Regions from separate parts of the Homo sapiens genome. Here regions 1, 2, 3, 4, 5 and 6 are each linked to region 7. The links come from fine-mapping of genetic effects on gene expression. A gene starts in region 7. Each other region holds a variant in brackets. All regions are shown on one strand. Distances are between the middles of the regions.

Evidence for each region.
Region 1: its variant is fine-mapped to the expression of ELAPOR1 in whole blood (INTERVAL, PIP above 0.99).
Region 2: its variant is fine-mapped to the expression of ELAPOR1 in whole blood (TOPMed, PIP above 0.99).
Region 3: its variant is fine-mapped to the expression of ELAPOR1 in whole blood (INTERVAL, PIP above 0.99).
Region 4: its variant is fine-mapped to the expression of ELAPOR1 in whole blood (INTERVAL, PIP 0.97).
Region 5: its variant is fine-mapped to the expression of ELAPOR1 in whole blood (INTERVAL, PIP above 0.99).
Region 6: its variant is fine-mapped to the expression of ELAPOR1 in whole blood (TOPMed, PIP above 0.99).

What each region holds. Positions count from the first base shown.
Region 1 is chr1:109,223,747-109,227,746 of GRCh38, reverse strand. SARS1 (seryl-tRNA synthetase 1) reads right to left here. Exons shown (of 11, transcript NM_006513.4): 2 at 3,699-3,769. Among named protein-coding and RNA genes, the nearest start is that of SARS1, 12 kb to the right of the region's middle. RefSeq lists enhancers at 1,004-1,688, 1,689-2,373. The variant CA/A (reference allele first, on the strand shown) is at 1,582.
Region 2 is chr1:109,182,762-109,186,837 of GRCh38, reverse strand. ELAPOR1 (endosome-lysosome associated apoptosis and autophagy regulator 1) reads right to left here. Exons shown (of 22, transcript NM_020775.5): 8 at 1,705-1,793. Among named protein-coding and RNA genes, the nearest start is that of SARS1, 29 kb to the left of the region's middle. The variant C/T (reference allele first, on the strand shown) is at 1,931.
Region 3 is chr1:109,391,761-109,395,836 of GRCh38, reverse strand. All of the region lies in intron 1 of SORT1 (sortilin 1), which reads left to right. Among named protein-coding and RNA genes, the nearest start is that of SORT1, 4.1 kb to the left of the region's middle. The variant T/C (reference allele first, on the strand shown) is at 2,029.
Region 4 is chr1:109,194,379-109,198,454 of GRCh38, reverse strand. It overlaps ELAPOR1 (endosome-lysosome associated apoptosis and autophagy regulator 1), which reads right to left. Exons shown (of 22, transcript NM_020775.5): 15 at 3,861-4,034; 16 at 801-981; 17 at 380-476. Among named protein-coding and RNA genes, the nearest start is that of SARS1, 18 kb to the left of the region's middle. RefSeq lists an enhancer at 1-1,118. The variant A/G (reference allele first, on the strand shown) is at 2,488.
Region 5 is chr1:109,279,933-109,284,002 of GRCh38, reverse strand. PSRC1 (proline and serine rich coiled-coil 1) reads left to right here and starts at 858. Exons shown (of 8, transcript NM_001032291.3): 1 at 858-940; 2 at 1,267-1,323; 3 at 1,428-1,485; 4 at 1,943-2,384; 5 at 2,752-2,866; 6 at 2,957-3,226; 7 at 3,514-3,607; 8 at 3,847-4,070. The coding sequence starts at 1,305. The coding sequence ends at 3,850. RefSeq lists enhancers at 347-396, 1-489. The variant G/A (reference allele first, on the strand shown) is at 1,945.
Region 6 is chr1:109,160,199-109,164,274 of GRCh38, reverse strand. It overlaps ELAPOR1 (endosome-lysosome associated apoptosis and autophagy regulator 1), which reads right to left. Exons shown (of 22, transcript NM_020775.5): 2 at 2,261-2,381. Among named protein-coding and RNA genes, the nearest start is that of ELAPOR1, 48 kb to the right of the region's middle. The variant T/A (reference allele first, on the strand shown) is at 1,918.
Region 7 is chr1:109,112,036-109,116,111 of GRCh38, reverse strand. It overlaps ELAPOR1 (endosome-lysosome associated apoptosis and autophagy regulator 1), which reads right to left and starts at 1,997. Exons shown (of 22, transcript NM_020775.5): 1 at 1,776-1,997. The coding sequence starts at 1,928. It overlaps CFAP276 (cilia and flagella associated protein 276), which reads left to right and starts at 3,365. Exons shown (of 5, transcript NM_001245025.3): 1 at 3,365-3,513. The coding sequence starts at 3,433. RefSeq lists a silencer at 2,176-2,245.

The sequences.
Region 1 (4,000 bases), 110 kb before region 7:
GTATTTTTAATAGAGATAGGGTTTCACTCTGTTGGATAGGGTGATCTCAAACTCCTGGCCTTAAGTGATCCCCCACCTTGGCCTCCCAAAGTGCTGGGATTATAGGCGTGAGCCACTGCACCCGGCCCCGAGTGTAGATTCTTATCTACCTGCTAACAACAATCCCAGCATTGAGGCTAAGGGTGAAAGATGGATGGAATGATGAAATATCAGACAGCCAAGGAAAACAAACAAACAAAAAGTCACAGGATCTGGAACTCAGTTTAGAACAATCAATGTAATTTGACAAAATGGCAGGGGTGTAACCAGGGTTGGATTTCGTTCTCTCTAGTTTCTCTTCTCATCCTTCCGTATGATAATTCTGCTAAATCATCATTTGTAATCCTTGCACAAAACCAGGTGAATTTAAAAAGATCACTTAAAGAGTTAAATTCTTCTTAAATTAAAAAGAGTTGGCAGGGCACGGTGGCTCATGCCTGTAATCCCAGCACTTTGGGAGGCTGAGGTGGGTGGATCACGAGGTCAGGAGTTCAAGATCAGCCTGACCAAGATGGTGAAACCCCGTCTCTACTAAAAATACAAAAATTAGGCAGGCGCGGTAGCAGACACCTGTAATCCCAACTACTCGGGAGGCTGAAGCAGGAGACTTGCTTGAACTTGGGGGCAGAGGTTGCAGTGAGCTGAGATCACACCACTGCACTCCAGCCTGGGTGACAGAGTAAGACTCTGTCTCAAAAAAAAAAAAAAAAAAGAGTTAAAGAAAGTTAGTCAAAGGTCATTATAATAAGATACATGAGACTTCAACAAAACTTGCATAAGAATATTTAGCATCCGCTTTGTGAGTATAAATAAAACAAAGTATAGCCAGGTACAGTGGCTTGCAACTGTAATCCCAGCTACATGGTAGGCTGAGGTGGGCAGATCACTTTAGCCCAGGAGTTCAAGACCAGCCTGGGCAGCAGAGTGAGACCCCATATCTAAATATAAATAAATAAATAAATAAATAAATATATATATATGTGTGTGTGTGTGTGTGTGTGTGTGTGTGTATATATATATATATATATATTTTTTTTTTTTTTTAAATTAGCCAGGCATAGTGGAGTACACCTGTAGTCTCAGCTACTTGGGAGGCTGAGGCGGGGGGACTGCTTGAGCCCAGGTATTAGAGGCTGTGGTGAGCTATGCTTGTGCCACTGCACTCCAGCCTGGGTGACTTTTTAAAAAATTAGCCAGGCACAGTGACATGTGTCTATAGTCCTAGTTACTTGAGAGGCTGAGGTGGGAGGACTGCTTGAGCCAAGGAGTTGGAGGCTGCAGTGAGCTATGATCACGCCACTGCGCTCTAGCCTGGGCAACAAAGCAAGACACTGTGTCAAAAAAAAAAAAAGAAAGAACAAAAGGACTAAATCTCCTAAATGTAAAGCATGGAAATCCTTTAGGTTCATTACACATTCTCATACAATCAAAATTCTAACCATAACTCCACTCACACCCTTCAGTGACTCAGAGCAAAATCATCTTAAAAAGTTGGAAAAATCTGGCCAGGTGCAGTAGCAACACAGGGAGACTCCATCTCAA[CA/A]AAAAAAAAAAAAAAAAAAATTAGCCGAGTGTGGTGGCATGCTACTAGGGAGGCTGAGGCAGGAGGGCTGCTTGAGCCCAGGAGGTTGAGGCTGCAGTGAGCCATGATTGTGCCACTGCGCTCCAGCCTGGGCAATAAAATGAGGCTTTGTCTCAGAAAAAAAGAAAAAAAGTTGGAAAAATCTGAAACTATCAGAATGAGTCTTGATAAGAACAGACTACAGAGGTAGGGAAAAAATGGACTAAATCTCAAGATTTTTGCAATGGCATCATAGGCAGGGTGATATGTTTGCAAGATAGTTACCAGGCTCCCTTGCTATTTGATAATCCCTCAGGGCAGCAAATTCAAGTTCTGAGCTCAAGGTTTGACTCTGCAACTAAGTTAGAATATGATTTTAAGCAAGCTCTTTAATTTCCTAAGCCGATTCCCTTACCCATTAAATAGGGCTGACAAATGTACTATCTGCACTCCAGCTCTGCAGTAAGGATCAAAACCAAAATAAGATGTCTGTGAAAGTATCTGAATGCTTTCGAGTGCTCTACAAATTAAAGCACTATCATTACCATTTCAATGGCAGTGGGAGTGAACACTCCCTGCATGGCTAGCAACAAAATCAGATCTAAGAATGTTATTGTGAATGACAACACTCACAATCCCATCTTCTTGCTTCAAAAAATACCCAGCTGGCACTGACTGTACATAGGTCCCAAAGAACACCCAGGGAGGAGTATGCATGGGAATTAACATAATTATGGGGCCTCTAGTATGCGAATGACTAAGTCCCACAGAAAGAAACTGGATGATTATCAATATCACTTTCCACAGCTAAAAGTGTTACACGCTGAAAGTGTAACAAAATATTGTCAAAGAGAAAGATGCCGACTGCCATGAAGTTAAGTGTAAGGTGCTAGAATCCCGAGGTCATCTTTTTATGCTCTTTACTGGTGCAGTTCCAAAGTTCTATAATTTTTTGTTGTTGTTGTTTAGTTTTGAGGTTTACAATGTAAAAGTTATCTAGATTGTAAAGTGCATTTAATTAATTAATTTATTTATTTTGGAGACAGGGTTTCACTGGAAACCCAGGCTGGATGGAGCTCAGTAGCGCAATCTTGGCTCACTGCAACTTTTGACTCCTGGCCTCAAGTGATCCTCCCACCTCAGCCTCCTGAGTAGCTGGAACTACAGGCACAGGCCGCCACGTCTGGCTAATTTTTTTGTTTCATTTTATTTTTGTAGAGATGGGGTTTCACCATGTTGTGCAGACTAGTCTTGAACTCCTGAGCTCAAGCAATTTGCCCACTTTGGCTCCCAAAGTGCTGGGATTATAGGCGTGAGCTACTGTACCCAGCTATAATATGTAATGTAATATGATTAAGGGGCTAAACAGGTATTTTTGAAGGAAGGTTAAAAACATGAACTATTCTGGATACCAAAGCAAAAGCTGAGCTGAAACATAGTATTTTTCAGGCATAGGAAGGATTTTTTTTTTGGATGAAGGCCAGTAACATTACTTGCCATTCATTATAACTCACAATTGCTGAACAACTACATGTTCTAGACACTGTGCCAAATTTTCTACATTTAAAAGAAATTTAGTTCTATCCATAACCATTGCTTGGCGTTTAAATTAAAAAAAAAAAGTTCTAACAATTCCATTCTGTAGGTGAGTGTTAGTATTGTCATTTTATAAATGAGAAAACTGAGGCTGAGGCATTAACTTGCCTAAAAGACACATAACGTAGCAAGATTTGAACTCTGAATCTGTAGTTTTCATTATGGAGCATAACTACGCTGAGACGACAAATCTGAAATCTGCCATAAAAAAGATGACTGGTGGAATTTATATTTCTAATATAAGAACAGAATAGACAACAAACAGCTAGACAACAAAGAATCTTACCTGAACACAGAAGATGGACTTGTGGTAAAGTATATGAAAATGCCTCCAAGTTCCCTGCCTCCCTATCTTTTTAAAATAATATTTTCCCCTTTGGTAAGAAATTGAACATCTTGTAGACTTAAACACTGAGTTAGAACTTCTGTGAACATTAGCTAAGAGCAAGATCAAATATCTCCGCTCAAGTTCTCATGGCTGTTTGTTATTCAGTTCTCTTACCTTCATTTTCTCTCCGATTGTCTTGCTGCATAGGTTCTTCAGCTTGTTCAAGTTGTCTGCCCGAAATCTACCTAGGAATAAAGAATCCAAGACTATACCAAAGAAATGCCCATAATTAAGATACTCCTTTCTCCTGATCTTGACTTCTTAGTACTGATTTCAGGTTAAGGCCCAAATGCCGGCAGAGCTGAAGGATCTGCCTCATGAAGTTATAAAATCTTACAGCTTTTTATTTTTATTTTTTGAGACAGCATCTTGCTCTTGTTGCCTAGGCTGGAGTGTAATGGTGCAATCTCGGCTCA
Region 2 (4,076 bases), 71 kb before region 7:
AAGCACGGTACTGACCCAGAAGGCCTTGGCGTGAGCCCAGGGAGGGAAGAGAATGGGGCAGAAGGGAGGAAAGACAGCCACATTCAGTCACATGTTATGAACAGGAGGGAGAAGAGCAGCAGGATTAATTGTCTGCCTTTTATTAGTGAGTTGGCTGAGACCAAGAAAATGAAAATAAATGTTCACAAGGTCATACAGAATACCAGACACCACAGAACTGAGTCTAAGGTGCAACTGACAAGACACAGCCATTCTCTCTTGGCTGCTGGAGAAGGGGATGATGCCCCAAATACGTGGGGGAGGTGGTGTTGGTAAGAGATGACTGTGCAAAATATTCATTGTTAAGGACCAGACTTTAACCCATGCTTAGTTAGGAAAGGGAGAATTCAGTCAGCCGCCCAGCCAGCAAATGTTTATGCTCCCTAAGAGCCAAGCATCATGCTTAGTGCTGAGTGCAGAATGCCCAACTCCTAGTTCTATCCTCTTGAGAATCTCTAGCTTAGGGATACAGACAGCTCAGCCAGATCCTTCTCCGTGCACCTCAAGCCCTTCCCTGCTCACTTACACTGTTTCTCCACCCACCTGGCCCAGCTGCCGCCTCCTCTCCTGCTGTGTCTGCTGCCTGGAAAGCTCCACGGCTCCTCCCTCATCTCCTTCAGGTCTCTGCTCAAATGTCACCTCCTGAGAGGACATCCCTACCCTTCTAAAATAGTGGCACCACCCTCCTTCATTCTCTCTCTCCTAATCCTGGTTTTTTTTTTTCCTTCCTACCACTTACTACCATTTGCTATATTATATACCCATTTGTTGTCTATTATCTCTCTCTCCACTCCCTCCCCAACAAGAGTTAAGCTCCATAAGGGCTAGATGTTCCCTCAGTTTTGTTAAGTGATGCATGCCTAGCACCTAGCACCGTGCCTGGCACAGAGTCGCTCCTCGATAAATATTTGTTGACTGTTGAACAAATGGCCTCCTCTGAGAGGCTTTCTCTGCTGCCCCCACCCCAAGTCCTGGTCGCTTCTCTTCTGGGCTCCCCCAGTTCCCTGCACATCCCTCTGGTTGCCTTGACTGGGCCCGTTTTTCTCCTCTCTCCAGCCTCTCATACAGGACTGTGAGCTCCCTGGGGGCAGGAGCTTGTTTCAGTCGTCTCTGACTCCCCAGCCTATAGTGCCAGGCCTGACATATCAGTCAGCCTCAAAAAATGCTTGTTGACTCAGTGACAGTGTAGACTAGGAGGGAAAGTTCTTTTCTGAAGCAGAAAGCCTGGAGGAAAGAGAAGCAGCAGAAACGGAACAAGTCAGACCATAGGCAGGAATCCATTCCCCGTGCCAGCCCACAAAACAGTGCCGAGGGGGTGAGCCTGAAGAGCCCCGGGAGGACATTGTGTACGGACAGGCAGGCTCTGCCGGAGTGGCTCGGCAAATAGAAGAAACCAAGCAAGAGAGAATGAAGTGGGTTTTTGAAACAGAACATATGTGCATAAACAGTGAAACAAACGCTGCAAAAACAGTTTCTGACCGGAAAATGAATGAAGAGGTCTCGTTTTGCCCCCCACCCCACCTAGCCCTAGGGTCACCTCAAAGGTCTGTGGGGTTTTAACTAGTGCCAATGTCATTGACTGCTGAAGTTCCAAATGGTGGCAAACCTCAGGGAGTGGGAGACAGTCCATCTGGGGCTAAGGGGCTCCAAGACTGTACTACCCACCTCTCCGTTGGCATCGCAGGCCGTGTGTGTGTAGAAATAATCTTTGTCTGTGCAAGCTGGGCGCACGTTACAGGAAGAAGATCCTTTCTCTAAATTGCCAAAGCAAGAAGAAATATTTGGAGTTACATAAGAAAGCTGAGCTCCTGGCCTCTTCATGGCCCTGTGACTCCCAAGTCCCTGGGTGCATTGCCACACAAATATTGCCGGAAGTAGAAAATCCTGCACA[C/T]TCACCCTTCCCCTTGTCTCAATAGTGTCATTTCCAGTTCCCCAACCCTGCTCAAGCTTCCCTTTGCACCTGTTCCAGGTGCTGATGAGAAACCACTGTTTGCCGCTTCCCGTCCCCCGCCCCATGGGGCAAGGGAGGGAGAAGTGGCCTGGCCAAAGGACCAGCAAGGAGGGTAGACGGAAACAGCTTCTTGCAGGTTAACCACTGCCAACCTAAGTTCCCTGAAACCTGGGGAGGTTCAGAGAGTTCACCATCTTCCAGGTGCCTTAGTGTCTTGACTCTGGGTGTGGTTTTTCTACTCCTGAAGTGTTGAAGTAAAACATGATTTTGCTTTCATACTCATTCCAAGCCTTTCTATGAATGTTCTAATATATGCCTAGAATGAAGGCCTTCCACCTTGGAAATTTCCTTTTCTTCATGCAATCATTCTACACAAACCAGGTTTGTAATTTCCTTGGACTCCACCTAACACATAAGGTTCTTCCCACTTGCCTCAACCCAAGCATCCCAACACTATCTTTATTATTATTATTATTGAGATGGAGTTTCACTCTTGTTGCCCAGGCTGGAGTGCAGTGGCACGATCTTGGCTCACTGCAACCTCCGCCTCCCAGGTTCAAGTGATTCTCCTGCCTCAGCTTCTTGAGTAGCTGGAATTACAGGCATGAGTCACCATGCCTGGCTAATTTTGTATTTTTAGTAGAGACGGAGTTTCTCCATGTTGGTCAGGCTGGTCTCGAACTCCTGACTTCAGGTGATCTGCCCTCCTCGGCCTCCCAAAGCGCTGGAATTACAGGGGTGAGCCACCGTGCCCGGCCTCTTTATTATTATTTTATTATTGTTATTTTTTAGAGACAGAGTCTTGTTCTGTTGCTGAGGCTGGACTGCAGTGGTACAATCTTAACTCACTGCAGCCTGGAACTCCTGGGCTCAAGCGATCCTCCCGCCTCCCGCACCAGCCCAACACTATCTTTAACTCTTGATTTATACCTAATGAAAAATGTTAACTGCTGGGCATGGTGGTTCATGCCTGTAATCCCAGCACTTTAGGATCTCTTGAGCCCAGGAGTTCAAGACCAGCCTGGGCAACATAGCAAACCCTGTCTCTACAAAAAATACAAAAATTAGCCGGGCGTGGTGGTGCAGGCCTATAGTCCCAGCTACTTGATGTTGAGGCAGGAGAATCACTTGAGTCCAGGAGGTTGAGGCTGCAGAGAGCCATGATCATGCCATTGCATTCTAGCCTGGGCAATGGAGAGAGACTCTGTTAGGAAGGAAGGAAGGAAGGAGGGAAGGATGGAAGGAAGGAAGGAAGGAAGGAAGGAAGGAAGGAAGGAAGGAAGGAAGGAAGGAAGGAAAAGAAAGAAAGAAGAAAAACGTGAACTATCAGTTTTCTTCTGCTCTCTGCATGTTCTCCTCCTTTCAATGTTAGCTCTGCTTTAACCCTGTGAACCTCTGGATAGTGAGAACTACTTCTATGAATTCATTTTTTAATTTTATTTTTTTCATTATTTCATCATAGGGTTTGTTTTCTTTTCTCTCTCTCTCTCTTTTTTTTGTTTTTTTTTTTTTTTTTTTTGGTAGAGACAGAGTCTCGCTATGTTGCCCAAGCTGGTCTTGAGCTCCTGGCTTCAGGCAATCCTCCCACCTCAGCCACCCACCCAAAGTGCTGGGATTACAGGCATGAGCCATTGTGCTTGACTCTCTCTTTAAAGCAGTGGGTTTAACTTTTTTTGATTTTAAAAACTCTTTTGAAAATTTGAAAAAAAGAGATGTTTCTCTCTACCTAGAAAAATATGCGTAATTCATACAAATAAAAACTTTTTGAAAGTTTTCTAGGGAATTTACTTCCTCCAGAATAAAAACAACTGCTTTATGAGGTGCACATTACAATACTGTTACTACTGCCACCACTACTTCGAATATGACTGCTGTGTCACCTGCAGATAAGCACTGAATAATGGTAAGAACTTCTCTCTCTTTATATTACCTGGCAAGCAGTATGGTGTAGTGGAATGAGATTTTTTTTTTTTTTTTTTTTGAGATGGAGTCTTGCTCTGTTGCCCAGGCTGGAGTGCAGTGGCACGATCTCGGCTCACTGCAAGCTCCGCCTCCCGGGTTCACGCCATTCTCCTGCCTCAGCCTT
Region 3 (4,076 bases), 280 kb before region 7:
TGCCACAGTGCTGAGATTAGAGGCGTGAGCCACTATGCCCTGCCTGGATTTATTCCTTGAGTCAGAGTCTTCCTGGTTAGTTTGAATTGATGTGTCATTTGTAATATATTGATTCCAAAGAAAGAGGTTGAAAAAACTGGCTCAGGGGTTCTAAGGCCAAATCTGTGGAAGAGTAGACCTAAAACCACTCATTCTTTGAAGTCCACATGTAAAGAAATTTTCTTCTATTTCTTTCATTTAGCTGTTTGCAATAATTTTTTTTTAGTTTTTCTCTCCCAGTCTTTTTTTCAGTGACCTTATTTAAAATAGCTATTTTGGCTGGGCACGGTGGCTCATGCCTGTAATCTTATCAATGTGGGAGGCCAAGGCAGGTGGATCACTTGAGGTCAGAAGTTCAAGACTAGCCTGGCCAACATGGTGAAACCCTGTCTCTACTAAAAATACAAAAGTTAGCCAGACGCGGTGGCATGCGCCTGTAATTCCAGTTATTCTGGAGGCTGAGGCATGACGATCACTTGAACCCAGGAGGCAGAGGTTGCAGCGAGCCGAGATCGCACCGTTGTACTCCAGCCTGGGTGACAGAGTGAGACTCTATCTCAAAAAAAAAAAAAAAAAAAAAAAAAAAAAAGTTTTTGCGTTTGTTAGTCATCCGTGGTCTCTTCTTCAGAGATCTCATCCTTTCTGTATCTGGTTAAAAAAAAAAAAAGTGGAGCCTTTGTTTAATATCATTTACCTTAAAAATGGTTAAGTAGTACTTCTTAACCAAGAATTGTTATGTAGTAGCCTGTTCTTCTGTTTATTTATTTGGTTTTAGAAGTCATAAAAAATCCTGAACTGTATTGAAGAGATCTAGTATTTTTGGACCGTTTATAAAACAGTGTGAAATAAAAGCATCAGCATGACAGAACAACTTTTTATCAGAGATATTGTACTTTGTACAACTGGGGAAGGAAGGTACATGTAGAATCATTTTTCCTACATAACATGACAGGATTCGAGTCCCAAGAAAAAGCAAAAGTTCATGGTTCTCTTATTTCTTTTAACTTGGTCCTGTTTCATTTCAAGCCACATTAATTCACATCATCAATGTATGTGAATGCCCTCCAAATGCCTAGATCTGTGCTAGATGCTGGGGTGCCAAGATACAAAGAAAAGATCATTCAGACTGGAGAATGAAAAGCCTCAGAAGGTTATAGCAAACTACTAGACCTGTGTCTGTGGCTTATGAGGATATATTAGCATTTAACCTGTCTTCTCAAGAAAGCACGGTAAAGCTAAAGCATAATAGTGCGTTTATATTACGGTTTAAGGAGACCGGTGTCCTGATGACCACTCAGGCTTCTCTGTCCATGAAATCCAGCAGGTTTTTCTCTTTGCCCAAGCCTCCCTTTTTCTCTCTAAGGTTTTTTTTCTCATATCATTTCTTTTCAATCTATTAATTTAAAATATATTTAAAGTGCATTGGGTTTATTACACACAGCATATATTTTTTCACATAGAAGTCCTAATGATTAAGTGCTTTATTTTAGGAGTTGAGGCAGGAGAGGAAAACATTTTCCTTTCTAGTTACAGTATTACAAGTTAGCTATAATAGACTCATGGGAAAGTGGAAATAAAAAATACTGGCTATTACTAAAAAAACAAACAAAAGGGATGACAAGAAAACGAAGGAGAAAGATAAATAGTTATAACTTTCCAAAAATTATGCTCCCTAATTTTGTTCTAAGGGTTTGACTTACCATGGTAAGGTGGTATAGCACTGCCTTATCTGGACTGCCTGCATTTGAACCCTGGCCATGTCACTGTGTGATCCTGGGTGAGTTACTTAAGTTTTCTGTGTCTCAGTTCCTAATCTGTAAAGTGAAGATAAGAGCACTTAATTTGTAGGGTGGTTGTGAGAATTAAATGAGTGTGTGTTAAATTATATATACATAATATATACGTATATGTATATTATTGTATAAATATATATTTGTATTACATAATATATGCATATGTAATATTGTATTTGTAATGAGTTATAGTATG[T/C]ATTACAACATATCACATTGTGTTGTATAATCTATACATATGTAATAACTCATTAGAAGAATGTCTGGCACATAATTAGCACTCAGCAATTAGCTATCATTTATAAATGCTCTCTTCTTAGACTCAATAATCTTCCTTTTGCCTGGAACTCAAAACTGTTTTCATGCCACATTTTTAACTGATTCTTTCCTTCAGCTGCTTGGAGTATTCATGACATGTATAACCTTTGTACATGCGTGAAATTGAGCAGGCCTAGAAGACTTTATTGTTGGTTACTAAGTTGGATTGCTTCAAAACATTTCTGCTGTAAGCACCCCTTTGAGGGTAGGCATGAAACTGTCTTAAAGGAACAGATGAAATGCCTTGGCCAGAGTTGTGGTGGTGGCTGACATAATTTCCTTACTTCTCATTCCTGTGTACAGACCATTTGACAATTTCCTTAAAACTTTTTAAACTTATGATGAATAAAGCCAGGAACTCTTGCTTATTTTCTGTCCTCCCTCTGCTCCTGTCACTAACTACTTCTGTAAACATAACTTCCCAACTTCTACTCCAACTTTAAAGCATCTGGTTCCTTAAATAAACAGGCCCTGTAGAGAGGCCGTGTTGTATGGGGTGTCAGCTCTGGGAAGAATGCGTGTGTTTGTTTGCTGGCTCTGGCAGGGTTGAGTCCAAGCTGACAGGACTGAGTGTGCCTGTCAGAGGCTTCAGGGAGCTGCCGCTGAAGACCTCGGCCTGTTGTTGTGAATCGCCAGACCTTTGTAACACCCGGAAGTCTGAAGGTCAGTCCTTTAATGCCCCGGAACTTCCTAACTGCCTCATTTCTTCCAATACTTGGCCTCTCTTCATCCTACCTTCCCTAGCACCCCCAGCCGTCTAGCTTATTTAATAGTCTCTTGAGTTCTGTTTCTTCCATTCAGCTTTGGATCAAGGAGTAGGAACTCTGTAGGATCTCCTTCTTGGTCCTGGTTGAGCAGAGTGAGCGAAACCTTCATGAAGAGTCTTCTCTCATGCAATGTATAGTCAGACCTTTAGCCCCTAGAGGGATGTTAAAATGACTTATGCATTGGATATTTCAGTAAGAAGTATCAGCAGATTTGATGAAGTGTAATTTATCTGGGGAAAGGTTAGTCTTCATCTGAAGTTTGGTTGGGATGAGAGTAGAAAGCTAGCCAGGTATGACAGATGGCTCCAAGGGAATGCAGTGTTAACAATTAGGTAAGTTCTCTGCTGACTCAAATGTTTGGCTCTGTGCACAGTGATTTTTAATTAGAAATCTGAGTCTCATGTCTGCTTGTGGAAATAATTGGAAGAAGGCTTATGTTCTGTTCAATTTCTAATGGCTATTTTCTTTTTGTGATTATTAACAACAATAATAGGCTTTCTATCCTGCTGTTTTGATCAGATCTTTCATGTCAGGGTCACAGATACTATTAGCAGTTTCTTCTGCACTCTGCCAGTTTCCAGTCAACTCTCGTCAACAGGCATTGGGTTCTCAGTGGGTGACTGCAGAGTCTGCGTTCCCCAACTTTGTCCCAGTTGGCCTGTTACCCTTGTGTGACCATCACATGCTGGGCAGTGCTTAGCACCAAGTTGTAATGGTCAGGACGGGGGAGTAACGTTTGTTCTTCTCCCTCCTTCCTACCTAATCCTACCCCTCAATTTTTTTTACAGAAAGTGAACTATGTTTTGAGGCTGCAGAAATGAGGCTCAGATATTTTATATAATTAGGAGCTAATATTAAGGCAGACAAAGCCATCACATTTGACATGTAATTTAAAATACAGCTTTTCTAGAAACAACAAAACTGTGGCAATGGCTCTGACAATATTATGAACTAGATACTGCATTTGTAGATTTCTACAAGTTTCAGTTCCCTTTCTCTCCTTTTGTCATCAGTGTTTTTATTGCATCTTTTACTTCTATTTTTAAAAACTTGGTGAAAACTTGTTCTTCCCACTATGTGGTCTCAGTGATTTGTATGCAGGTGGATTTGAGGATTAATGGGGCTTGAAGAACAAGCTGATCAATTTCAGTCAGTTCTAGGC
Region 4 (4,076 bases), 82 kb before region 7:
AGCCTGGCACACAGGGAGTGCACAGGCCTTGGTTTATACGTGGAAAGGGTGGGGATCAACAATATGTAGTCAAGGGGGAAATGCCCTGGTTTAGGAAAGTCATGGCTAGCATACACTGGAGCCTGCTTAGGCTGGAAGGGAAGTCCACTGCAGATCATCCAATATTTCTCCTTGCCTCTAGGGCAGATCTGCTCCAGTAATATCCAGGAAGCTGGGATCAGGAACTCCCAGCCCTTAGCTATCATGACTGGGCAGATCTGCTAGACCTCAGACATGTTCTGGCTTGATAAGCAGTAGGTGGCTAGAGAGGGAGGGATGCAGCAGAAATTATGGAGGAGTCCTAGGTTTCACTTGCATTAGCCTAGCCTCTCATCTTCACCTATAAAAGAAGATCACGTCCGGTATTCCCAAGGACTCCAGGTGGAAAAGTTCAGCTGGGGAGGTGATTCCATCCAGAGTCATATCTGTTGTCACCCCTGCCAAATTAGAGCTCCTAATTAGTTCTCACTAGTAGCATTAGCTGGCAACCACTTCAATTCTTCCAATACCTGTCAACATCCAACCTCACTTCATCTCATCACATCCCTGAGTGGCTTATGAAAGGGTGAAACAAGGGTTTGTCAGAGTCCCTGGGAGCACTTTGCACACAGAGTGGAATAGAAAACACAGGTCAAGAGGTTGGGCCCCTCATGTGGGGCCTTTTACCTCCCAGACTGGTAACCTCACACTCTCTTACACATACACACACACACACACACACACACACTCTCAAACAAGGCTGAGGCAGCGGAGTTACTCACCAATAAGTCGATCAGCAAGGCTGACAGGCTGTGAGGAAACCCCGGCCTTGTAGCCTGTCACCTCTGGGGGGATGATGACTGCCTGGCAGACGTAGGCTGTGATAGATTTGGAGAACCCTGACTCACCCTCAGGAATCCGGAGGTCAGTGACATTGTCGGTGCACACAGACATTTTCCTACCCTGGTTGGGGAGTGGGGAGGAAGAAGTAGGAAGAAGTGAGTGGTCACAGAGGAATTCCCAGAAGGGAATAGGGAAGGCTTTTTTACATCTAAATTTTCAGCGTTTCAATGGTATGTTGTAGGGGAATGATTCATCCCAGGTCTAATGACGAGACAGATTTGATTTTTTTGTTTTGTTTTGTCTTTTTGAGACAGAGTCTTGATCTATTGCCCGGGCTGGAGTGCAATGGTGCAATCATAGCTCACTAAAGCCTTGAACTCCTGGGCTCAAGTGATCCTCCTGCCTCAGCCTCCTAAGTAGCTGGAACCGCAGGTTAATTTTTTTTTTTTTTTTTCGTAAAGATAGGGCCTCTCTGTGTTGTTCAGGCTGGTCTTGAACTCCTGGGCTCAAGCAATCTTCCTGCCTCAGTCTCCCAGAGTGTTGGGATTACAGGGGTGAGCCACTGTGCCCAGTCAACATTTTCAATGTTATAAATTTTATTATAAATGGTGCTGGCTGGGTGCAGTGACTCACACCTGTAATCCCAGCACTTCGGAAGGCCGAGGCAGGTGGATCATGAGGTCAAGAGATTGAGACCATCCTGGCCAACGTGGTGAAACCCCGTCTTTACTAAAAACACAAAAATTAGCTGGACGTGCTGGCGCATGCCTGTAGTCCCAGCTACTCGGGAGGCTGAGGCAGGAGAATCGCTTCAACCTGGGAGGCGGAGGTTGCAGTGAGCAGAGATCGTGCCACTGCACTCTAGCCTGGCAAAAGAGTGAGACTCCACCTCAAAAAAAAAAAAAGTGCTAAATCTGGTGTCTCAGCCTTTTTTTTTTTTTCTAGATTGTAGGAAGTAGATGAGCTTGAAAACTGAAGAAAACCTTTACATTACAATAAAATAGAGTTCTTTTGTCTTTGAACTAAGGATCTATCGTGTGGCAGTACATCATAAGCATTTCTAAACAGGAAAGGAGTAGATAAAAAAATACACCATTTCCCCAAATTCCCCACCTTCATTGCTCTCCATAATTCACTGAATGACACTTTTGCTACATGAAGCCTGCTTTAATCAGTCTTATTTCCTAAGTGATCATGACCTGTTACTTCTGAGGCTTCATTTTAACTTCTTCGAAGACTTCTGAAAACAAGATAGAGACACCTATCTCTAATCTTTCATAGATTAGTTTATTTCTTGACATGTTCTCTTTATAAACACCCATCGACTTCTTTGCATGCTGCAGAAGATGGGTCAGAGCTCTATGATGTAAAGGCCTTACCACCAACAGAGTCAAAGACTAGATGCTCAAGATGCTCTTTATATTGTCACTTTTTTTTTTAGATGGAGTCTTGCTGTGTTGTCCAGGCTGGAGTGCAGTGGCATGATCTTGGCTCACTGCAATCTCCGCCCCCTGGGTTCAAGTAATTCTCCTGCCTCAGCCTCCCGAGTAGCTGGGATTACAGATGTGTGCCACCATGCCGGGCTAATTTTTGTATTTTTAGTAGAAACAGGGTTTCACCATGTTG[A/G]CCAGGCTGGTCTCGAACTCCAGACCTCAGGTGATCTGCCTGCCTTGGCCTCCAAATTGCTGGGATTACAGGCGTGAGCCACCATGCCCAGCCTCTTTTGTAACATTTGAAATGAACTTTCCAACTGCTAATTGTGGCTTGTTGCAATTTAATCAAGTGCAGTGGTGGGATTAACCTTTGCATTTCTGCCTTTGAATTTTGGATCTGAAATATTTGCAGCAGCATGAAATGGCTGATGGTGACAATCTTTCCTTATAAAGCATTTCATGTTACTTTCTTTCATACTGTCAGCAAAGAGACGTGTGGATGAACTAGAAACAGTTGATTTTATCCAGCCTCTAGAAAACAAGCGACAAATGCAGTGATTGCTGAAGACTGCTTTTTCAAGCAAGGGAAAAAAACCTTTCCTTCTGCATATTTCTGGGGTTTTTTTTGTTTGTTTTGTTTTTTGCTTTTTTGTTTTTTTTTTTTTTTGAGACGGAGTCTCACTCTGTCGCCCAGGCTGGAGTGTAGTGGCGTGATCTCCGCTCACTGCAAGCTCCGCCTGCCAGGTTTATGCCATTGTCCTGCCTCAGCCTCCTGAGTAGCTGGGACTACAGGTGCCCGCCACCACGCCCGGCTAATTTTTTTGTATTTTTAGTAGAGACAGGGTTTCACCGTGTTAGCCAGAATGGTCTCGATCTCCTGACCTCATGATCCACCCACCTAGGCCTCCCAAAGTGCTGGGTTTACAGGCGTGAGCCACCGCGCCTAGCCTTCCTCCTGCATATTTTTAAATAGACTCATTTTGAGGAAATAAAGGTCAGGTAAAAGAACACCTTATTTTATTTTATTTTATTGATTTTTTATTATTTTTCTGAGATGAAGTTTCACCTTTTTGCCCAGGCTGGAGTGCAATGGCGCAATCTCAGCTCACTGCAACCTCCACCTCTCAGGTTCAAGCGATTCTCCTGCCTCAGCCTCTCGAGTAGCTGGGATTACAGGCATGCACCACCACGCCCAGCTAATTTTTTTGTATTTTTAGTAGAGACGGGGTTTCTCCATATTGGTCAGGCTGGTCTCGAACTCCCCACCTCAGGTGATCCGCCCGTCTCGGCCTCCCAAAGTGCTGGGATTACAGGCGTGAGCCACCGCACCAGGCACCCGGCAAGAACACATTATTTTAAATATCTTTATTTTCTTAAGTGTTTATAATCCTGATTATTTAATTTTAGGGGAAAAAGTCCTCAGGGAGAATAATATGTAAAAACCTTTGAAGCTCCTCAACCCCCTGCTACCTGAAGGATTTCTGGTTTTCTCCTGTGTCTGTCTCTGGCTTCTGATCCATGGGCCTCCCCCATTCAATTTTCACCCTGTCAACTGGTATACCTTACCTGGTTTCCACAGAGACTGAGGGTAAAGTGATGGAAGTATTTCAGCCCTTTGGAAGTGAAGCTTGGCCCTCCAGCAAGAGTGACAGTGTTTGCCAAAGCGGAGAAGTTGTAGTTGAAAGTCCTGGTCGGAGTGTTGCGTGAGAAGGTGCAATCGTTGTAGCACAGAGAGTGGATCTGAGGGGGAGAGGGACGGGTCGGGCCAGCTGGTCAGGAAGG
Region 5 (4,070 bases), 170 kb before region 7:
GTTTAAGCATTTTACAAATACTGCTTTTAGTTCAGAGGGGGCTACTTACAAACACCCCCTCTAAATCCCCTAAGGGCACACGGTAGAAAACGCCTTCATAATTATCCTCGTAACACCGTAACTGCGAGGACCAACATCCTCCTTTCACAGATAAGCGAAGAGAGGTGAAAAGAGGGCAAATATACTCAAGGCAGCCGCCTCTAAACCGAAACTTGGGTTCTGAGGTCAGTTAAACTTGGGTTGCATTTGAACCTAAGCCTGCCTGCGTGAAAAGCCCGTTGCTTTCTTTGCACCTCAGCTGCCTCAGGTTCTTGAAGAGGCGATGGAGGATGTACTTCTAAGAGAACCTCAATATACCTACAATATAAGTGTTTAGGTGCTCCCTTAACTTGGAAAAAACCCACAACTGAGGAACCTCGGCCAATGCGGCGCCTGCATATTGAGTGCGCCCAAGAAAACGAATTTCCTCCCGTAGAGCGTCGGTTAGCGGCCACGTTAGGCAGCACAACCGTTCTGGAGACTGGGTGCTCGGCGGCCCAGCAGAGGGAGCGGGGCGGGGCGCGAGTTCCATACTCGTGGGTCCGTTTCTTCCCTCCTGGCCAGCCGCGCTCTGCTCCCATCTGCCTACGGGAAAGAGAGTCTCCGCGCACGCGAGCACGCGCACTCGCAGCCTCAACCCTCGGCTCCGCCACCGGGATGCAGTCTTCTGGGAACGGTTCTCCCCCAGCCCCCACCGGCTGACTTCCGGCCGGCAGCTCCTCAGCCCCTCCCCCTGAGGATTCACCAATCACGGTGCGCGTGTGGCTTGAGTAGGTGGGGCCTGAGAGATTCGAAAGGAGCCCCGCCCCCTCGGAGCTGATTCCCGGGACTAGGTTGCGGGAGAAAGCCTGTTGCGTGGAAGATAAGGCGGCGCGGGAAGTGGACACAGGGTGGGCTGGAGGTGTGCTTCGCGTGTGATGCCAGGGGAGTGGAAAGGTGGCTTGGGGAGTGCAGAACCCTGAGGATAGTGGCGGGGAGGAAGATGGGGCGTGCAGGCCGCCCCCAGTGAGGAGAGGCCAGGATGCAGGGCGGCTCCAGGGCAATCTGGGCAGTTGGGGGAGCCCTCCGTATCGTTCCCGGAGGTAGCAGGAGTAGCTGTGCGGGAGGTGCCACTCCTGGGCGCTTGCTTTGCCTCCAGCATGACCCCCGACCCTGGCTTGCACCCTGAATCTAGCTGCGAGCCTTGGGCAGAATGGATACCTGAGGAAAGGTATGGTTTCTCTCCAGCTCAGATCTAACTGGACTCTCGCTCCTGCTGGCTGGACATGGAGGATTTGGAGGAAGGTAAGGAAAGGAGGGAGGGAAGAATGAAAGGGAGGAGTGAGACCCAGCGATGGAGAGCTGCATCAGGGACCCATGACTGGCTTTCATTCTTCTTTCCCCTTCAGATGTAAGGTTTATTGTGGATGAGACCTTGGACTTTGGGGGGCTGTCACCATCTGACAGGTACCAGCCTCTTTATCCCACTTATTTTCCTCTAACAGTACCTCTTTGTCTCGAATCCCTTACTGCTGAATTATTGGCTTGGGTTGGTAACTTAGCAAGGTTTGGCGCACTTGGGGCTGCTGGGCGGCTGGCTGACTCGGGCCTCTATGACACTATTGGTAGCGGGGAGAGAAGGGAGAAGCTGGAGTTAGATTTCAGGGTGTTAAGAAGAAGGATAAGTGGATTTGCTGCATCTCCATCCTGGCATCATTTCTGATGTCCGTAAATGCTAAAGGCCTATTAGGCCCCATAGAACCAGGTATCTCATCGCCCAGAGGCCACATCTCACAGCCAGCATGGGCATCGGGGCCTAGGGTCATGTCCCTGGCTCTGTTGTGGGGCTTTTATGCAGTCTCCCTTGCATAATCTCCTGTTCCCTTTTGCATGGGCATGATGCCTGGTTTGTTTCCTGTCTCAGCC[G/A]TGAGGAGGAAGACATAACAGTGTTGGTGACTCCAGAGAAACCACTTCGACGGGGCCTCTCCCACCGAAGTGACCCAAATGCAGTGGCACCTGCCCCCCAGGGTGTGAGGCTCAGCCTAGGCCCCCTCAGTCCAGAGAAGCTGGAGGAGATCCTCGATGAGGCCAACCGGCTGGCCGCTCAGCTGGAGCAGTGTGCCCTGCAGGATCGGGAGAGCGCAGGCGAGGGCCTGGGGCCTCGCCGAGTGAAGCCCAGTCCTCGGCGGGAGACCTTTGTGCTGAAGGATAGTCCTGTCCGAGACCTGCTGCCCACTGTGAACTCTTTGACGCGGAGCACCCCCTCCCCAAGCAGCCTGACGCCTCGACTCCGGAGTAATGATAGGAAGGGGTCAGTCAGGGCTCTCCGGGCTACATCTGGAAAGAGGCCCTCCAACATGAAGAGGGTGAGTTGAGAGAGTTGAGTTGGAGGTGTGCCCCAGACATGGTGTGTGCCATGATGCAGGGAGTGGTTTCCTTATTGGTAAAACAGGGATAGCATTTCTACATCTAGAATTGTTGGAATTAAATGAGAACCATGAAAAAAGAGAACCAAAACTCTTACCACAGTGTCTGAGTATATGTCTATGATAAACTCAATAAATGGTATTGGCAATAGTGATGGTGATGGTGATGTGGTGATGTTAGCAGCTAACTTCTACCCTTCCTTACTGGGATGTAGACAACTCTCCACCTCTATTTCTTAATTCCTTAAGCCACAGAACAGATATTTTTTCCACTCTAGTCTTTTTTCTCTCTCTCTTTGTGTTTCAGGAGTCACCCACTTGCAATCTGTTCCCTGCATCCAAAAGCCCAGCATCTTCTCCTCTTACCCGATCGACTCCCCCAGTCCGGGGGAGAGCCGGGCCCAGTGGGAGAGCAGCAGCCAGTGAGGAGACCAGAGCAGCCAAGTTGCGGGTGAGTGGGAGTGGGGAGTTTGTGGGATTGACCCTGAAATTTCTCCACCCCTCTCCACCAGGCCCACCCACCCCCATCAGATCCGTCCTGGCCCCACAGCCTTCTACCAGCAACTCTCAACGCCTGCCCCGGCCGCAGGGAGCAGCTGCTAAATCTTCCAGTCAACTGCCCATTCCCTCGGCCATCCCCAGGCCTGCCAGCCGAATGCCACTCACCAGCCGGAGTGTGCCACCTGGCAGAGGTGCCCTACCTCCGGATTCTCTGTCAACTCGAAAAGGGCTTCCAAGACCAAGCACTGCAGGACACAGAGTGCGGGAAAGTGGACACAAGGGTAAGAGGTCAGGAGGAAGAATGCCCGCCCTTGCCCAGCGTGTCCTCACCCTCCCAGAGCTGTCAACAGTGACCACTTTTGCCATCCTTATTGCAATTCAATTGGAAGATGGGGAGACTGAGTTACAGAGAGGATATGGGGCTGGACAGAGTCTGAGTCTTAGTTTTCAAATACCTCATGGTCAGGGGGAGAGTACTAATCCCACACTCGCTCCCTTCATCCAGTATTTCTTTTCGAGGTCAGTTAAACTTGCTGCTAACTCATTTCTTTTGTTAACCCCCATGAAGTTCCTGTTTCCCAGCGACTAAATCTTCCTGTCATGGGTGCCACTCGCAGCAATCTGCAGCCCCCCAGGAAAGTGGCAGTCCCAGGACCTACCAGGTCAGTCTGGTCCTCCCTTGCCCATCCTGTCTCCCTACCCCGCCATCATCTGGGATTCCAAGCTGTTATGCACATCAGCCCTGAATTTTGTATGGAAAGATGGAGAGAGGAGGGGAGCCTGGGGCAGGGGAAGGGGGATCCCATTTCTTCCCACCCTGAGGAGCTTGAATTCTGCTGGGTGACAAATGGGCTTGAGGAAGAAGGGCATTTTAAAGCAGTTATTCCTTCTATTTCTTTAGGTAAAGAGATCAGGACAGCAAGCAAGACTTCAGTAGCAAACCACTACAGTCAGTACCTGGACTCGCCTCTACCCAGCAGACCCTGACTCCAGCAGATTCTGGCCCAGGGACAGGAGGAAGAGATGCCACCAGGGCTGGTCTCCCAGGAGTAGAGACCATGGGAAATGGGGTGGATTAGGATTGAGCTGGAGAAGACTTAAACTCTCTGGGTTGAAAGAAGATTA
Region 6 (4,076 bases), 48 kb before region 7:
GAACGGCCAAAAGAGGTGAAGCCATAGAGACAGAAAGTAGATTTGTGGTTGCCAGGGGCTGTGGGGAGGGGCCTGGGGAGAGATTGCTAATAATATGAGGTTTCTTTTTAGGATGATTAAAATGTGAAATGAGAGTGATGATGGTTGCTGTGAATATTCTAAAAACCACTGAATTTTATCCTTAAAGGAATGAATTTCATGGCATATAAATTATATACCAATAAAGCTGTTATAAAAAAAATAGATCTAGGGCCACGGATGCTCTGCCTTGCTGTGGGACTTTGGGCTTGTTCCTGGCACTCGTTTCCTTTGGAGAGGTGCCCTGACCATTCTGAGAGCTCTCTGGTGAAGAAGATGCCAAGGTCTCTTGTGCTGACCCCTCTGAATGACACATGGCCCTTCAGCCTTGAATTTCTCCCTTGAGCCTCTGGCCTCTGCCTTTCTGGTTGTACTGCCACCATGCTAGGTGGAATTCTCATGACCTGTTAACTCAATCATTGCAATATCCTCCTAACTAGTTCCCTATTCTTATTTTTGCTCATTCTGTGGTCAGAGGTACCTTTCTAAAACAGATGTGATCAGGCACAGTGGCTCATACCTGTAAACCCAACACTTTGAGAGACCAAGGCAGGAGGATCACTTGAGCCCAGGAGTTTGAGGCCAACCTGGGCAACACAGTGAGACCCTGTCACTACCAAAAAAAAAAATGTTTAAATTAGCTGGGAGTGGTCGCGTGTGCCTGTAATCCTAGCTACTCAAAAGGCTGAGGTGGGAAAATTACTTGAGCCCAGGAGGTCGAGGCTACAGAGCTATGATTGCACCTCTGTACTTCAGCCTAGGAAACAGAGTGAGACCTTGTCTTTAAAAAAATAAAAAGTAAAACACGTATGTACTATTATTCTCCTTATTTTAAAAATAAACAGGCACTCCCTTTTGGTTCTAGAATTATGCTCTTGGCCTGGCATTCAAAGTTTTCCACGATTTCCCTGCAGCCTAACTTCCCAGCTTGACCTCCCACTACAAATCTTTTTTCACCTCAACTCCATCCATCACCTTCTCTGTGTTGCCTCTACCCTGGACCACAAGCTCTTCCTCAAATGTGTCACTCTTCATCCACGTCTAAACTTTTGCTCAAGTGGCCCTCCCAGCTATGCCTGATCCCTAAATATTCGTAACTCTCATTCTTTCTCATATCATATATGTCTGCCACCCACTAGGCTCTGCGCTCCTCTGGGGATGGCTGGCTCAGTGACTGGCACAGACTGGGAGCTTCATGAATGTTTCTGAAACAATGAGTGAATGAATGAATGTCTGCACTTTCCACCACCCTAAGCTTCTGAAAGCAGAGAGTGTGCCTTATTTGTCTTTGCAGTTCACACTGCATGTGCACATCATGGTGCTAACACATAGTGGGACTCACTGAAGTCAGCAGAGTTCAATGAAGATGGCTCATTTGTTTCCACTAGTCACACCTCAGTTCTGCTCAGGTCTCAGCAATATCCAGTCATTAATTTAACAAGTATTTATTTGCTCACTTACTCAACCAGGCACTGTACTAAGCTGATTTTAGAATTTAAATATCTTCAAACTCCTTTCCAACTCTTCAGATAATTCCTTAAATCTAGTGCCTGGTTTTTCTTGTTATTCCCTTTGCATTCCTAAAAGAATAATGCAGGGGAAACAGCTGCCAATTGTAGAAAAGTTGTGACTGCAGAGTCACAGAGGCGGGTGCTGGGGCTGCGGCAAGCCACTGCCTTTCCTATTGCACAATCAGACCCACAGTCAAGAAGATTCTTGTCTCCTGAAGTGATGCCTGGAGCATTTTAAAGGACGTCTCTGCAGAAACTTAGCCTCTCTGACTTCCTTTTTAAGAATGAAAGCAAATCTCAATCTTGCCTAATGACTGATTGTGGCTGG[T/A]GAGTGAGTGTAGATTGGAGAGACATACAAGGCAAAAATGAAAATGTATGCAAACAGAAAAGAATATCTGAGTGCACACAGCTGGCATTGCTTATGCTGTATCCACTGATGGGATTTAAATTCCTTTAAAAAATGAAAGCAAATTCAGATATCCAGTTTGCATTCATGAAATACTTCTGCACCAAATCTCATAAGGGTCTGGGATGTGGGGACTAATTGGGGAAAAGATCTGATTCCTTAATGCAGCTGCTCTGCCAGGAAGGGCCCAGATTGGATGGCAGGAGACTTGGGGGAGAGACCAAAGCTGAGTGACAGGGAGGCCCTGAGCAGGATAGCTGCTTACAGCACTCGGTGCCCTTGATGGGGTCAGGCAGGCTGGTGCACAGGCCCGGGGTATGCGGCACGGCGACCCTCCACCTGGAACCCGTGCTGTCACACGCCGTGTACTCATAGTGGTACTCAGACTGCAGGGGAGAGAACAGTGGGCGAAATGTGCATTAGCAGTGATCAAACATTAACAGCTTCCCACCCACTTCCCAGCACCATGGCTACTGATGCTCATCCTCTCAGAAATGGGCCCTGGGACCCCGGGCAGGGAGCTGATGATTATGAACCGAGTACAAGAACTACAATGATTTGGATCATTCCCTTCCACCCAGCCATGGTCTAGTCCCTAGAAATCATTTTTGTGTGTGACTCTCTTTGTTGTTATGTTTAAGTAGTGTCCTTATGGAGCAGAGGAACGTGGGAAAGGTAACTAAGGAACAGGCTAGAAATAGGTGGAATTTTTCTTATTCCAAAGTGTAGAATTTATGAACGAGGACATTCTAAATGGAAGGATGTTCTAAATGGAAGCCTTAGTCCACAAAAAATTTACAAAGGCTCCTCACAGAAGTGGTATGTATTTCTATTTCCCTGTGTTTCTTTTTTTTTTTTTTTTTTTTTTTTGAGACGGAGTCTCGCTCTGTCGCCCAGGCTGGAGTGCAGTGGGATGATCTTGGCTCACCGTAACCTCCGCCTCCTGGGTTCAAGCGATTCTCCTGCCTCAGCCTCCCGAGTAGCTGGGACTACAGGCGAGTGCCACCACGCCAGGCTAATTTTTGTATTTTTAGTAGAGACGGGGTTTCACCATGTTAGCCATGCTGGTCTCAAACTCCTGACTTTGTGATCCACCTGCCTTGGCCTCCCAAAATGCTGGGATTACAGGCATGAGCCACCACGCCTGGCCCTATTTCCCTGTGTTTCTTATGCTCCTTTCCACTCAGAAAGACTATGAATTCCCAATTGCATTTTATGAAAATATATTTGGCCGAGGCAGGTGATGTGCTCTCACTTGAGCCTGTTCATCCCTAATTTGTCTGTGCAATGGGAAACTCATAGTTTAATTGTTTTACCTGAGCTAAAAATAAATGGAATAACAACAAAACAACCAAATCAAGCATTAAGTAAAACAACAACAACAAACAGTTCCACTCAGAACAAAGAAAACACAATTGATGTGCCAAATGCCCTTAAGCGTTTCTTCCTCCTTTAAATCTGGTAATAAACAACAGACCATGGAATTAGTGATGATTTTGGCTCTGACAAGTATTTTACAATCTACACTTACCTAAAACTATATTCAAGCCCAGAGGTATTTTGTATTACTGTATGCATAAGAAAAATAGAATTAATGTCCCCCTTTAACCCACGTGATAGCCTGATTGCATAACATGTATAACGTCAAGGAGCTAAGACAAAAAATACAAGTTTTGAAGTTTGCTAATCTAATAATGCGTCAGGATCAAAAGGAATAAGCTTTATTTTTGGGGATAGGTAAACACACTGCATTTCATCTATTCCAAGATGCACGCTTTTTCCACATCTAACATCTATGAAATCAAGACGTGTCTTAAAATTGACACAGTAAGGAAGAATTGTGTTATGTTTTAAGGGATAGAGAGCTTTTTCTTTCTTGATGACACATTAAAAAAATGGTGTCTTAGAAGCAGTGGCATTTCAGACTTGTTGCAATATGGTAAAGATGTAGTTTCTTTTCTTTTTTTTTTTTTTAGACAGTCTCTTGCTCTGTCACCCAGGCTGGAGTGCGGTGGCGTGATGATGGCTCACTGTAATCTTGACTTCCTGGGCTCAAGTGATCCTCCCACCTCAGCTTCCCA
Region 7 (4,076 bases):
CCTCCAAACCAAGATAATAGAAGTGCTTAATTTCTGAAATGTCTCATATTTTCCATTGTTGACAAAGATCTCAACAAGAATTGGTAGTTAAACTGTATGATTCTTACCTTCCACTCAGGAAACTCCCTTGTTTGATTCTTAGGCAAGTGGGCTTTCTTGGTCTCATTATTTTGGTTGGTTAGACCACAGGCCATCAAGGCCAGTGAGCCAGTCACTGATAAGATCATACTGTTCCCTGCGATCTCTAAAACAGGTCATAATGCGGCTAGGTGGAAATGTAGATGGCCCAGGGCAGGTTGTCATTGGAGCTAATAAAGGTTATCAAAAGTCCCACTCACTGGGGTCACTTATGTCATATTCATGAATCTTCAAAATCAAGTATCTTTATTCACACAAAAATCCTCCCCCCCACACCTGACTTCTTTATGACCTGCTGTGCTGTAGACACAGAACATCTTTATAAGAATTTATCTCCATATGGGATGGAGTTGTTGCCAATCAGTTCACACTAACAATTTATAAAAAATATTCTGGGCTGGGCGCAGTGGCTCATTCTTATAATCCCAGCACTTTGGGAGGCCGAGGTGGGAAGTCGCTTGAGCCCAGGAGTTAGAGACTGGCCGGGGCAGTATATCGAAACCTCATTTCTATTTTAAAACATATATTTTTTAAAGTAAAGAAAATACATCTATATATATATTCTAACCTCTCAAAACCTTAGTCAAGCTTGATATTTGGGATTAAATTTACAGAGCTAGATGCTTGACTTTTTATGAAGTCCTTCACATTTCACAGAAATAACAGAACTTTTATTTTGCCTTCCCCAACGTAGTTCTTGTAAATATCTTATTGTTGCCTCTGCCATATGGTTTCTAAAAAAGTTGCTCAGAGCACAACCAAATATTGTTATTTCAATAACATAGAAATGACTTAGTTTTGTTGCTGCTAGTGCCCTTTTATGTTCCTCCAAGATGACTTTTCAAAAGCTATTTTTGGTTATAAGAGATTGACTACCTATTGTCTGAATTCTGCTTCCAACATATTGGAAATACCTTGAAAAAGACTTTGACATATGTTAAGTCAGAGAAGGAGACTAGAGGTTGGCAGAACACAAGATATTGAAGAACTCAAAATCTGCAAAAAGGTGAGTCGTGTACTGTCAGGTACACTAAACATAGTACGCTGCGGGGAGGCCAAGCTATAAGGAGGAGACACATTTTACAGTCTGCACTAACCGATGTTTAATAAACAAGGAACTAGAGAGCTGGAATCCTATCATCCCTCTCGCACATCTCCCACCTTCACACTCCGTTTTGTGTAGCCATGATAAAACCACTTCGCTCTGATACTTTTTTCTGGCCTTCCTAACTCCTTTCCTCTCCCACTACTCTTCTTTCCTCTTCCTATTTTGCTTCTCTGTGCATAATCTTTTCTTGTCAACCACTTTTAAGGTGAGTTCATCCTAACTGGAAAATAACTCGTCTGCCTCCCTCATTCTGAGTTCAGGTACCCAGGTAGCTCCCCTTCTTGGGGCTGGGACCTTTCTCGCTGAGCTCAGCATCCCAATCTGTGAGGATGATCTATCCGTGAGTCCTCCAATGTGCTGGCCTCCTCATGACGCCAGACTGGCTCCTCTTCCCTCCCCCCACGCCTCATCCCCAAAGAAATCTAAACTCCGTGGCGTCTGAAACTCTCTGCGCCTGGGTCCCCAAGGTCTCCGCCTGGATCCAAGACTTTTGTGACCAAAGCGGGATCGGGTAGGGGGGCGGCAGTACCTCTTTGCAGGCATGAAGCTCCGGTCCCGTTCCCTGGGTCACCTGGAAGGCGGTCCCAGCCCAGAGCAGCAGCCGCCACAGCCGGGGTATGCGCCTCTCAGTTCTTCCCCTGACTCTGGCGGAGAGATGGTGGCTGTGCCCAGGCTCAGCCATAGCGTTGTCCTGAGTGAGCGGCAGTAGCGGCTCAGGTGCTGCGGCTGCTGCTTCTGCTGGCAGAAGGCGGAAAAAAAGGGGAGGGAGGTACACAGGCGGAGGATGCAAGAGGCCAGGCTCGCTTCAGTCACCTCCCTGCGGCTACGCCAACACCGCCCATCCTTCCTCCTCCCTCTGTCCTCTCCTCCTACCCACGTCGCCTTGACAACCGCCTCCTCTCTGGCTCCGCGCGGGTGGGGCAGGGACCACGCGCGCCTCTGCAGCTCACCTGCGGGTCGCCATGGCAGCCGCCGCCGCTGGTGCGCGCGGCGTGGGCGCGGGAGAGCGCGCGCCCGGGGTGCGCAACCGGCCCAACAGGCAGGCCCGGGGCTCGTGTGAAGAACACAGTGGAAGCATCCTCCAAGCCAGCCAACAAATTTCCGTTTTCTACTGCCCTTTCGGGCCAGGGGTTATTTTATGAGCATCTCCGATGTTGCACACGTGGCGTGTGAACCGAGAGAAAGAAGATGGAGAGATCACCCTCCAGACGTCGTCGCCTGGAAGAGGCCCCAGTACGTGTTCCCTCCTACGAAGGCCACTCCTGGAGATCTTACATCCCGCCAAATCCATCCGTGCTTTTACAACCGGCTAGAAGAGAAGCCCTGACACTGTAGTTGATCCGAGTTTAAGCGAGGAGTTTGCCTTAGCCGCAATTTCCCAAGCGCCGCACGTGGGCCTCTCTCTCTCTCTCTCTCTCTCTCTCTCTCTCTCTCTCTCTCTCTCTCTCTTTCTCTCTCTCTCTCTCTCTCTCTGAGACAGGGTCTCACTCTCTCGCCCACACTGGAGTGCAGTGGCGCGATCTCGGCTAACTGCAACCTCCGCCTTCCGGGTTCAAGAGATTCTCCTGGATTAGCCTCCCGAGTAGCTGGGACTACGGGCGCGTGCCACCAAGCCCAGCTAATTTTTTTCCTACTTTTTGTAGAGACGGGGTTTCGCCATGTTGCCCAGACTGGTCTCGAACTCTTGGGCTTAAGCGATCCGCCCGCCTCCGCTTCCCAAAGTGCTGAGATTACAGGCGTGAACCACCGCGCCCGGCCCTCTTTGGTCTCTTGACATCCTCATTCTCTCATGGCTTTGAAAGCCTTTTGTTAGGTGCGAGGGAGAAGGAAATTTCTGGGTCATCTTTCAGGACTTCTTTCCTCAACTGAAGTCTTTTGCAGAAGTCCTGATGGTGAGCAGCCAGCACTTTTCCGCCGAGGCTCAGGAGTGCAATTCCAAGTCTCGGGCCCGCTCAGCGGAACGTTCCCTCTGCAGTCCCCGGAGCTTCCTCCCCAGGGGCCTCCCGTGGTCAGCCGCCAGGTGGCGCCCTCCTCTGAGGGAATTCCTCTGTCATAGATGGCTGGGCAGTTGCCTGGCAACCGAAACCAGCGCTCCAAACAATTGGGACCCGGGATCTTATGCCAGTGAGGCTGTGCTGCGGCTGAGCGGGCCTCCCATCCCTCTTAAAAGAGTTAGGCATTTAGCCATGCCTCCCACCCGGGACCCTTTCCAGCAGCCTACATTAGATAACGATGATTCCTACTTAGGAGAACTGCGGGCTTCCAAGGTACTGTGGTTTCTTGCGCAGATTCCCAGTAGGGTCGCCGGTAGTCTTCTTTCTGTCTGTGTGATGAGCAGAGATGGTAACATAAAGGACTCTGGTGAAGACACTCAGTCGGGTACCAGGGAAGTCTGTTTTCTGCCTGCCTCCCTATCTCCATATTCAAGTCGGCTAACGTTTCAGAGGCGTTTTTGAGCAGAGGAAAGTAGAGTTCTAGTCTAGAGGAACAAGGGGCTCTGGCAGCTCAAATCAATTGTGAGTATAAGTTATGGCAGTGCCCAGGTTCCTTCAAGCTACCCATTTCCCTATTTGGAAGACTGTTCTCTGAAGAGAAATGAGATATGGAGTGGGAGAGAATCCTCTGAAAGCCACCAGAGGTCATGCTTTACACATCTGTGTTCACACTGTCTCTGTCTTCTGGTTAACACCACAATATGTTTGTTATGTGTGTGTTTAGCATGATGGTGGACACTGATTTCGGAACTTAGATGATCTTTTTTCTGGTAGAAGTGATTGGGATATATGAAGTGGTGCACAATAAGATGAATTAAGTGGTGATTGTGGTCTAA